Homo sapiens: one gene and its partners. The protein of the gene in region 1 purifies or fractionates together with the protein of each later gene. This does not show direct contact. Each region holds a gene or a part of one and is shown in the gene's direction. Other genes may lie near its edges.

What was found. The genes of interacting proteins can lie anywhere in the genome.
Region 2: the proteins of RNASE4 (region 1) and CNTNAP3 purify together in Homo sapiens (affinity purification with mass spectrometry; one large-scale study listed by BioGRID and IntAct). This does not show direct contact.
Region 3: the proteins of RNASE4 (region 1) and LRP1B purify together in Homo sapiens (affinity purification with mass spectrometry; one large-scale study listed by BioGRID and IntAct). This does not show direct contact.

The regions. Positions count from the first base shown.
Region 1 is NC_000014.9:20,698,060-20,701,559, forward strand, and holds the end of RNASE4 (ribonuclease 4 precursor), read left to right. Parts: intron 1-976; exon of another isoform or gene 977-1,070; intron 1,071-1,262; exon of another isoform or gene 1,263-1,295; 5' UTR 1,296-1,312; coding exon 1,313-1,756; 3' UTR 1,757-3,157; downstream 3,158-3,500.
Region 2 is NC_000009.12:39,099,668-39,103,167, reverse strand, and holds part of CNTNAP3 (contactin-associated protein-like 3 isoform 1 precursor), read left to right. Parts: intron 1-452; coding exon 453-671; intron 672-3,017; coding exon 3,018-3,257; intron 3,258-3,500.
Region 3 is NC_000002.12:142,121,017-142,124,516, reverse strand, and holds part of LRP1B (low-density lipoprotein receptor-related protein 1B precursor), read left to right. Parts: intron 1-3,500. UniProt on the Homo sapiens protein: Potential cell surface proteins that bind and internalize ligands in the process of receptor-mediated endocytosis.

The DNA.
Region 1 (3,500 bases):
AGATAGTGGAAAGAGCACAGGGTGTAGACTAAGATAGGCCTGGATTCCTTTCTTTAATCTGTCAATGAAAGCAATGAATGTTCTGAAACTACATGGCAATGCTTTTTTTGTTGCCACTCTGGCTTTTTTTTTTAATGCTATAAAATATATGCCTATTTTTCACTGCCAAGAGGTGACAACACAATGATGCTGCAACCAGAGAAGACAGACAGCTACCAACAACTATTGACAAGACAGAAGGAACATCAAGAATAGATGCAAGACAAAGCAATGTATCTCCATGGCCTAGATTTTTTAGGTTATGCATAGAAACAGCAAGGAGAAGAAGACACAATCCAAGTTTTCTTTTGAGAATATTGTGCTGTTTAAATTTATTTTTTAAACATTTCTTAGCTTTTCTTATTAGTCAATTTCATAAGCCTGGGAAACATCTTTACTCTATCCATTTAATTGCATTTGTTCATTAGCTTACTCATTTCACTTATTAGTTCATTCAAACAGTAGCTATTATCAACTGTCTTCTAAGAACTGTAACTGGGTATTCTGGTTTTGCTTTTTTTTAAAAAATAGAATTAAAAGGATTTCCAAAAGGACCTGATTTTACATTAGAATTAGAATAATACATTTTAAATTAATGTATAACATATATTATTCTAGAATTAGAATAGATTTTAAATCACATTAGAATAATAGCCACATGACAAAAAAGAAAAGAAAAATAATAAAATTAATGACAAAGAAAAACAATAGTCATGTGAGAGGAAAGGCAAAGCCTAAATATTCCTCTGTCCTCTTCCTCCACCTAGATTCCCAGATGTAAGGTATTAAAAGTAGTTTGTAAACTTTCTGTGACGTATGCTGAGTCTATCCAAACTGTCGGGAATTGGAGCCTCCCGGGAACCAAACACTCCCCAAAGATCATACACCTACGGAGTTCCCCCAAGAGACACACAACTGCAGTTTCATGTAGGTTCACCTTTTCTCTCTTTTTATACTCTGTCCACACAAACCTGGCAGCCACGCAGTCAGTCCCTGCCCTGTGTCATTGTACTGGCCACAGCAACTTCTCTCTGTAAATGAGAAAGGTCTTGCTTTCAGAAAAGATCATGTTTGCAAACTACTCACTCTTGAGGAAGAAGGGTGGGAAAAGTAGCAGAGATGAGTGGGGAGATGGTGCATATAAGAAGGAGGAAAGAGGAGACTATGGAGTCAGGATGCCGGCTTGCTATTCTCAACACCTTTTTCCAGTGCCCAGTTCTTACCTTATTTCTCCTGCCCCTTGCTTTCTTTTCTAGGCACCTCTAAGATACTGATGGCTCTGCAGAGGACCCATTCATTGCTTCTGCTTTTGCTGCTGACCCTGCTGGGGCTGGGGCTGGTCCAGCCCTCCTATGGCCAGGATGGCATGTACCAGCGATTCCTGCGGCAACACGTGCACCCTGAGGAGACAGGTGGCAGTGATCGCTACTGCAACTTGATGATGCAAAGACGGAAGATGACTTTGTATCACTGCAAGCGCTTCAACACCTTCATCCATGAAGATATCTGGAACATTCGTAGTATCTGCAGCACCACCAATATCCAATGCAAGAACGGCAAGATGAACTGCCATGAGGGTGTAGTGAAGGTCACAGATTGCAGGGACACAGGAAGTTCCAGGGCACCCAACTGCAGATATCGGGCCATAGCGAGCACTAGACGTGTTGTCATTGCCTGTGAGGGTAACCCACAGGTGCCTGTGCACTTTGACGGTTAGATGCCACCATGTAGGGATTATCGCGAGTGGTTGACCTTACACTTACTCCTTAAATAGCAGTGAGTAATGCATTTGAGCTGTCCCAGGCTCTGTCTCCTCAGCTCATTTCCTACTCTTTTTCTCTATATAACTCATTCTATTAAATACATTGCACCAAAGAGATATGGAGACATAAACCTGTAATGAATGAGGCTGGGCTTTTCTGTAATAAGCTTCCTTTTATAATACTGGTCAGCTTAGCTCTCTCAGATCCTATCCTGTGGAATTTAGTTATTATGTGTATTTATGTAGTATTTCAAACATTTCAAAATGCTTTCATCTATGTTTATCACATTTTAATACCACAGCACTTATAATGATGTCACTACATATAGAAGCTCAAAGTTAAGGGATTTGCTGAAGACTGTAAAGTTAATGGAAGAATTGAGACAAAAATCCAGTGTAGCTGGCCACTTATCCAGGGCTTTTTCTACTTCATCACAAGGAATGTTTTGAAAGTGTCTGCTTTTTTTATCCTTAAAATTCACCTGTCAGGGAGGCATTAAAAATTTGGAAATGTATGCCAGCAAAATGTGAGCTCTGTATTTTTTGGCATTCTTATGTTTGGGTTTAATAAGATTAAGAAAATGATACTGGGAATTTTCTTTTTCCTGAAACTTTGAATCACCCTAGTAAGTCAAAGTACTAAAAAATGTACTAGATCATTAAGACTTATGTGCTCTTACTGATTGAAAGATTTTTTATGTTTTCCTTGTAATAAAGGACCTAAACCGAAGGTACCTGAGAAGACTGTGCTATGGTATTATTTTTTTTCTCTGACTTTTAAATTCTTGTTTAGTTTATAAACATGCATGCACCTTAATAACCTCATAAACTCTGGTCAAAGACTAATGCCTATCAGATCCATGACCACAACACAGAAGATTTGTCTCATTTACTCCAGAGAGAATGATTCCTCTCAAAGACAATTCTCACAGCTCTTCCTTCTCCCTTAGAATATTTAGAAGCAAATTAGGGAGCTGTCAGGTCTCTGAGCCCAAGCCTGCACGTATACATCCAGATGGCCTGAAGCAACTGAAGAACCACAAAAGAAGTGAAAATAACCAATTCCTGCCTTAACTGATGACATTCCACCACTGTGATTTGTTCCTGCCCCACCTTAACTGATCAATTAGCCTTGTGACATTCCTTCTCCTGGACAATTAGACTCAGGAGCTCCCCACCAGAGCACCTTGTGACCCCCGCCCCTGCCCGCTAGAGAATAACCCACTTTGACCGTAATTTCCCACTACCAACCCAAATCCTATAAAACTGCCCCACCCCATCTCCCTTTGCTGACTCCTTTTTTGGACTCAGTCTGCCTGCACCCAGGTGATTAAAAAGCTTTATTGCTCACACAAAGCCTGTTTGGTGGTCTCTTCACATGGACGCGTGTGGCATTTAGTGCCGAAGACCCAGAACAGGGGGACTCCTTCAGGAGACTGGTCCCCTGTCCTCGCCTTCACTCCATGAGGAGGTCCACCTATGACCTCAGGTCCTCAGACCAACCAGCCCAAGGAACATCTCACCCATTTCAAATTGGGTAAGCGGTCTTTTCACTGTCTTCTCCAGCCTCTCTTGCTACCCTTCAATCTCCCTGTCCTTCCAATTCCAGTTCTCTTTCCTCTCTAGTAGAGACAAAGGAGACGCATTTTATCCATGGACCCAAAACTCAGACACCAGTCACGGACTCGGGAAGATAGTC
Region 2 (3,500 bases), on another chromosome or scaffold:
GAATTCCAAAAATATTTGACCAGACATATTGTTTTTTATGTACCCAAAGCTTAATTTATGACTGTCAAAATTTACATTCAGTGTTTATAGAATTAGATGAGACTTTGAGCCGTTTGTAAATAAAATTACTGAAACCTCAAAAACAAATACTATTTGGTATTCTAGCTATAGGTACATAGCTATGGGTAGTCCAGCTATGGGTACATATCTCTACTATTTAGGACTTAACAAGGTTGAATTGTGAACTCTGAGGATAAATATGTTAAAATCCGTTCTGTTTTCCTCCAGGATACAGATTTATTCTGCCCCCACCCCAACTCACAGTCCCGTTTTTCTGCATCGCCGTCATTATCTCCTTCCATCCTGAGCGTGCCTTCATGTTTTCCTGTGTCTGCACAAGACTCAATTTTCTGTGAATTTGCTTGAGCAATATTCATATCTAATATTTCTAGCTCCCACAGAAGTGACCTTTTCCTTCGATGTGGGGAATGGACCTTGTGAGGTCACGGTGCAGTCACCCACTCCCTTTAATGACAATCAGTGGCACCACGTGAGGGCAGAGAGAAATGTTAAAGGAGCGTCTCTTCAAGTTGATCAGCTTCCTCAGAAGATGCAGCCTGCCCCTGCTGATGGGCACGTTCGTTTACAGCTCAACAGCCAGCTCTTCATTGGTGAGTGCTGGTGGTTTATAACTGAATTTAGTGTGAGTCCAGAGAGGGACCAAAAGAAAATAAGAACTGTGATGTACTGAGAGCAACAGTTGCCAACAACAACTACTGCTTATTGGTACTATTTGCTGATAACCTGGTAGGTTCCAGGAGCTTGCTGTGTGCTTCTTATTTGACATTTCTTTTTTTGTTTGTTTGTTTTTGTTTTTGTTTTTGTTTTCAGACAGAGTCTCACTGTGTCGCCCAGGCTGGAGTGCAGTGGTGCAATCTCAGCCCACTGAAACCTCCACCTGCCGGGTTCAAGCGATTCTCCTGCCTCAGCCTCCTGAGTAGCTGGGATTACAGGCGCAGGTGCCACCACGCCTGGCTAATTTTTGTATTTTTCATAGAGACACGGTTTTACCATGTTGGCCAGGATGGTCGTGATCTCTTGACCTGATGATCCACCCACCTCAGCCTCTCAAAGTGCTGGGATTACAGGCGCGAGCCACCGGGCCCTGCAGTATCTCAGTGTTTAGGTATCAATGTTTAGGTATTGTCATCTGTTTACAGATGAGATAGCCAAGCCTCAGAGAAGTGGAGTAACCAGCTAATGAGAGGGATCCCAGGATAGCCGACCCCCAAACTTGAACCATTCACATTGCAGAGGATTGGCATATGTGACAGCTATATTTTATCAACACTATTAGTGAGATCATTAGACATTTTTATCCATTCCTTCAGTTTCACTTCTCGGTGGAGTTAGAGAGCTTGTAATTGGGACAGAAGTCCTCCAGGGTCCACTCAAAACCAGATCGCAGGATACCCGCTGATTGGAAGCAGCACTGCGCACCTCCCCCGCGGCCAGGCTTCCAGGAGCCCACTCCCGGTTTTCCTCGCTGCTGTTCTCACTTCTGGGGCTCTCTCATCACAGGCTCCTTGTTTATAACCTGGTCTGGCTCATCTGTTCTTGCACTCCATTTATTTAAAGGTGATAGCTCTGGAAGTCTTTCCTTTAGTTTGCTTACTTACTGTTTTATCACTGTTGTTTATTTTTCCATATTGCTTTTGAAACTATTCTAACTTAGGAGCTACACAGATTAAAGCTCTCACTTGTTCATTTCTTAAGTGTTTTAAAGTGAATAAGGATGCAATCTAATTAAAACTGGACTAAATCACAAATTATCATCCAACCTAATTTACAGGGAAGGGTAGATACAACTTCCAGGTACTAAATGCTACACGTGAACCCACGTATGTATGTGGATGTGGATGGGGTGTTATACCATGACTTCCTAAAACCTAGCTTCAGGCGTGGTTAGCTCTTCTATTAAGGTGCAGTGAGGCTTTTTCAAAGGACATGAAACCATCAAACTACTGGAAAGGAGGACTACACGGAGGGGTCAAACCAAGAACTTGATTTTCTCACTTGTAATCTTGGAGATTATTTAAGGGAATGCCTAGAAACACAATTAGCGTAAAATTCACCTAGAATCAGCATTCATTGCGGTGGATGAATCACTGGCTTCAGAATCACCCACAAAGCTGATTGATAGTTCAGATTTGGGGCCCCCACCTTAGGCCCACCGAATTGGAATCTCTGGGAGGAGGCTAAAAACTGCATTTTCCAGAAACTCTAGGTAATTTCCATGCTCCTAACATTGAGAATTGTCGCCTTCATAATGGTGTTTGTCACTACACAGGTGTTGTAAACCTCTCTAAATGGTTTCTTCAGCATTCAAGTTTGACATGACAAAATGTGCATGCATGCAGTATTCAATTACTGTTTAGCACTGTACCCTCTGAGAGGAGGAGATCCTGGGGTACGGTGTCACCCCTTCCAACTTCCCCTCCTTTGCCTCTCCATTTCCTTTCACACTTTATTTTTAGAGTCCATCCAAGTAAGAAATTATCCATATATATTTTTATTATTGTGAAAAATTTGGAAGTTCATACCTAACCATTATAATGCACATTCTTATTCATAAAGAAATTAAAATAATGTTTGATGAATACACATTCTTATTCCTAAACAAAGTAGAATAGTGTTTGATGTGGTTTATATTATGTATTTTGTTCTTTGTGAAGGAACTAAAGTGAAATTCTTTCTTACCTGAAGTTAAGGAAATGTTTTAGGACTATTTGCCAGACTCACCATGTTTGAAAGTTATGTAAATAAGTGTTTTATTCAATGTCATTTAAAGCTTCATGTCTCATAACAGTTACATTTTCAAAATTGTGTATGTTCACAAAATTTTTTGACACATTGTGATTATTGCCACTCTCCATAAGGCCTGAGTTTGACATGGACATAAAATCCTGAATAAAATACCAAGGAACACATTTCTATTTGCAGTGTTTCCGTTGTAGGTGGAACGGCCACCAGACAGAGAGGCTTTCTAGGATGCATTCGGTCTCTGCAGTTGAACGGGGTGGCCCTGGATCTGGAAGAAAGAGCCACAGTGACGCCAGGAGTGGAGCCAGGGTGTGCAGGACACTGCAGCACCTATGGACACTTGTGTCGCAATGGAGGGAGATGCAGAGAGAAACGCAGGGGGGTCACCTGTGACTGTGCCTTCTCAGCCTATGATGGGCCGTTCTGCTCCAATGGTAAGTGTGACCAAGGAGCAGGTTATAGGGAAAGTACATGAAACTTAAATAACATGAAGAATGCTTCTGGCATTTGATATTATAAAGAGAGGATAAGATTGAATTATTTGAAATGGAATAATTTCTGTACCAAATTCCTCTATTGAATTTAGAAGGGATATGACTGTTTTTGAAAACTTAAGGCTATCAGTCCTCTCTGGGTTTCTTATTTAGAAGATCTCTGGGTTACCCCTAGCATCTGTT
Region 3 (3,500 bases), on another chromosome or scaffold:
AATGTGATTTCAAAGATTTTCTCTCAATAAAGAATATATATAGTGGAAATCATTCATAAATTGGACAACAGGATTAAATGCTCTTTTAAATATGACTATAATAATTTTCATATGCAGTCACATTAACTTAGTTTTAGTCTACAATTAGGTACCCAATTATGATTTTTAAAAATGCAATGGCATGAATAAATAAATGAGTATACCCATTTGTTGATCTTATTCCCTATTACTTCAAATTTGTAAGTATCCTTAGTGGAAAAGAGTAATGTTCATTTTGGAAATAATCATGTCTCAACATGATTGGGGTCTACTCAAGGGGGAGGGTGGGAGGAAGAAGAGGAGCAGAAAGGATAACTATTGGGCACTGGGCTTAACACCTGGGTGGTAAGATAATATGATCAACAAACCCTTGTTACACATGTTTACCTATGTAACAAACCTTCACATGTACCCCCAAATCTAAAATTAAAATTAAAAAAAACATGTTTTTCTGTTGTTCAATAACTCTACTCATATTTGTTTAATAATGATGTATTGTCTACATTTGGGATTTCTTCTTAAATATTGCAGAATAGTTGTAAATACGTAACGCTTTTCAAAGGTGTCTTTACCTTTAGAAAAGAAAGAAAATTAATTTTGATTAATACATTTGTACCACAGATCCATTTGTTTAATCTTATTTTTCTCAAATATAAGCTCGTATATAAAAGTTTCTCAGATATAAGCTTGTGTATTTAAAAGTTTCCATTTAAACATGAATAATATTATAACTATATCCTTTACAGAAGTTGAGAAAGTACCTTTTCATATACAATTTCTTCCAACTTTGTTAAGAGAAAAATAACCAAAAAAAAAAAAAAACTTCTTGAAGAAGATAGATCATGTTGCCTTGCTAAGATACCGACATTACATTTCATCTCACAATACATTCTTATTAACAGTCAGACATCTCTTCCTGAGTTGCATACACCTCATTGTCCTGACTGGCTTAGCCTTCAGACCAAAGACAGGTATTGTTGAAACATGACCTCATTTTAGTCAAAAGAATATGTTTCTTCTTTAGGTAAGATCAAGGTACCACCTATCGTCTCTTGTTTTATTCTTGCAATCAATAGGACATCCCTTCCTAACTTTTCCACATTGCATTGACATCCTTCAAGATTTCCAAGACTGCTTAACTTTAGAAATACGAATATATAATTCCTTAAGAATTTTTCTACCGCTGAGTTTTTCTTTAATGACGATTTGTCATCTTAGCCCTTTCTTCTTAAAATGAGAAAAGATAACTAACAATGAGTTTTGGGGAGAAATGAAACTTAGTTATGGTTGCTTTGTGTGTTCCTAGCATATCTTAAGATATTTGTGAGAAAGAAAAGCTGTAGGTGTAATGCTGATAACCGAAATGTGTTTAGAATCATCTGTTTTCTTTTGAAACTAGGATGTGTAAGGAAAGGAAGAAAAACAATGCCAAGAAAGAGAACTTTGATAGTCAGAATTTATTGAAGCTTCTGTCCACTACTGCTCAGATCAAGTAGCTGAGCTAATTAGAACCTTAAACTTTTGCTAAAATAGATATTATAGAGATTTAAAAATGATTCAGTTTTTAGATTATCTAAGACATTTTGTGCATTTCCAAAGCTTTTAATGGTATATTTTTATTGGGACAAAAATGTTAGAATAGCAAGTGTGCTTTATTGAAATATTCCACTTTATCCAACTCTATTAACTTTTAAGGCATTTTTTTCATGACTAAGATCTGGAAGTACAGTGATAATGACACCACCTCGTGAGTGAGATTCTTGCCTCATCAGGTGAAAGCACTACAGATTGTGCCCACTGGGCATCCATATTTTTGAGATTTTCATTAAGCATAATAACTACATCAGATTTGTAGATGGAATTACTAACTCAGAATTCAGGCACTCTTGCTGAGCGCCCTTGTATTGATGTCATTTCTAACACAAAGACTAGCAGTTCAGGAGCACTATATTGATGTCCTGTAATACAACAGCACACTAATCTTATTTGCAAGAAAATTTGATGACTATCCAACATGATCAACATTTAGAATATCTAAATCTAAATGTTGAATTTAGATATACTAAATATATCAGATATTCAGAACTTAAACCTTCTTCTTTGTCCGTTGTTGTATTACACTCAATTCTACAGTTCCTTCTCCTAGCACGTTTTCTTCCTATTTTCACTTGCTAGTGATCTTGTCAAATATTTAGAAATTAATCTTGACAGTGAAAGAACCAACATCTTAGCACATTTTGACTTCCTTTGCTATTCTCATTGCTAGGAGAACATAAAGTAATGAAGGGCATGAGGGTTTTACCTTGTGTGTATTTTCATCTGGGTGTCTATGAAAACACCACCAGAGTTTTACAGAAAATTGCTCCGACCCATTCTGAGAAGATAAACATAGCTATGACCCTAACGTTCTGTGAGTGCACAGAGTGTAATGTCTGTGAAAACACATCGTATCATGTATTGCATTACATAAATACCTATTATTTTATTAATTATATTAATTGCTTAATATGAGTTACTAATAGCAAGAAGCTCTTTACATTTTCAGCATACCTTCGCTTTTCATTCAAATTTTTTTTTTCTTGCTGAATCACATGATCCTTGAAGCAACTCATATAGTTGGTGATCACTCATGTGTTTATTCACTCATTTGACAAAGATGAGCAAATAAGTGGTAATCACTATTTTACGTGGTTGGAATGAAGCAAGTGAACAAGGTAGACAATGTAACTGGGCTGATAGGGCTTTAGTGCAAGAGGAGACAGAAACAGCAAACAAATAAATAAATAACATCCTTGCTAAAAAGAAAGAAAAATAATGTAATGTGACTGAGGACAATGCAATTGGGAGTCGTAGTTATAATCGCAGAAGGCCTTGTTGAGTAAGTGACATATTTGGTAAAACTAAGTGACGAGAGGGGACAAGCTCTGAGTCATCTAGAGGGAGGAATTTTCTATGCAACCCTTGAGAGGAAGTTGTGATTTTGGTATTTTAAAGAAAGCAGGTCACTTTGTCTGAAATAAACTGTGTGTGTTTGGGAGAGAACAGAAGTAGAGAAAGCCATATTTACAGTGAAGTCAGATTAGGTCAGGTAGGGTCATGCAGATCAAATTGAGGCATTTGGGTTTGGTTCTGATTTTGAGCAGCTACTGGCTGTCTAATCAGAGGTGAAAATGATGCAACTTACTTTTTAAAGAGATCATGCTTGGTCTGAAAAGAAGGACAAGAAGGGAAATGATGAATCCAGTTCAGGGATTATCAAATTCATCCTGGAAAAGATGTTGATGGCTTGAATGAGGGAGTAGTAGTGGCAATAACGACAAGCTACAACAGAGATTTGCATTTTTAGTTTAGAAAGATTTTCTATAAGAACGAATGCAGCACCATTCTATGTATTAGGGAGGATAGGCATGAAATAAAGCCGCAAAAGATAATCTTTGGGGGAAAGGGTTAATATTCTAATC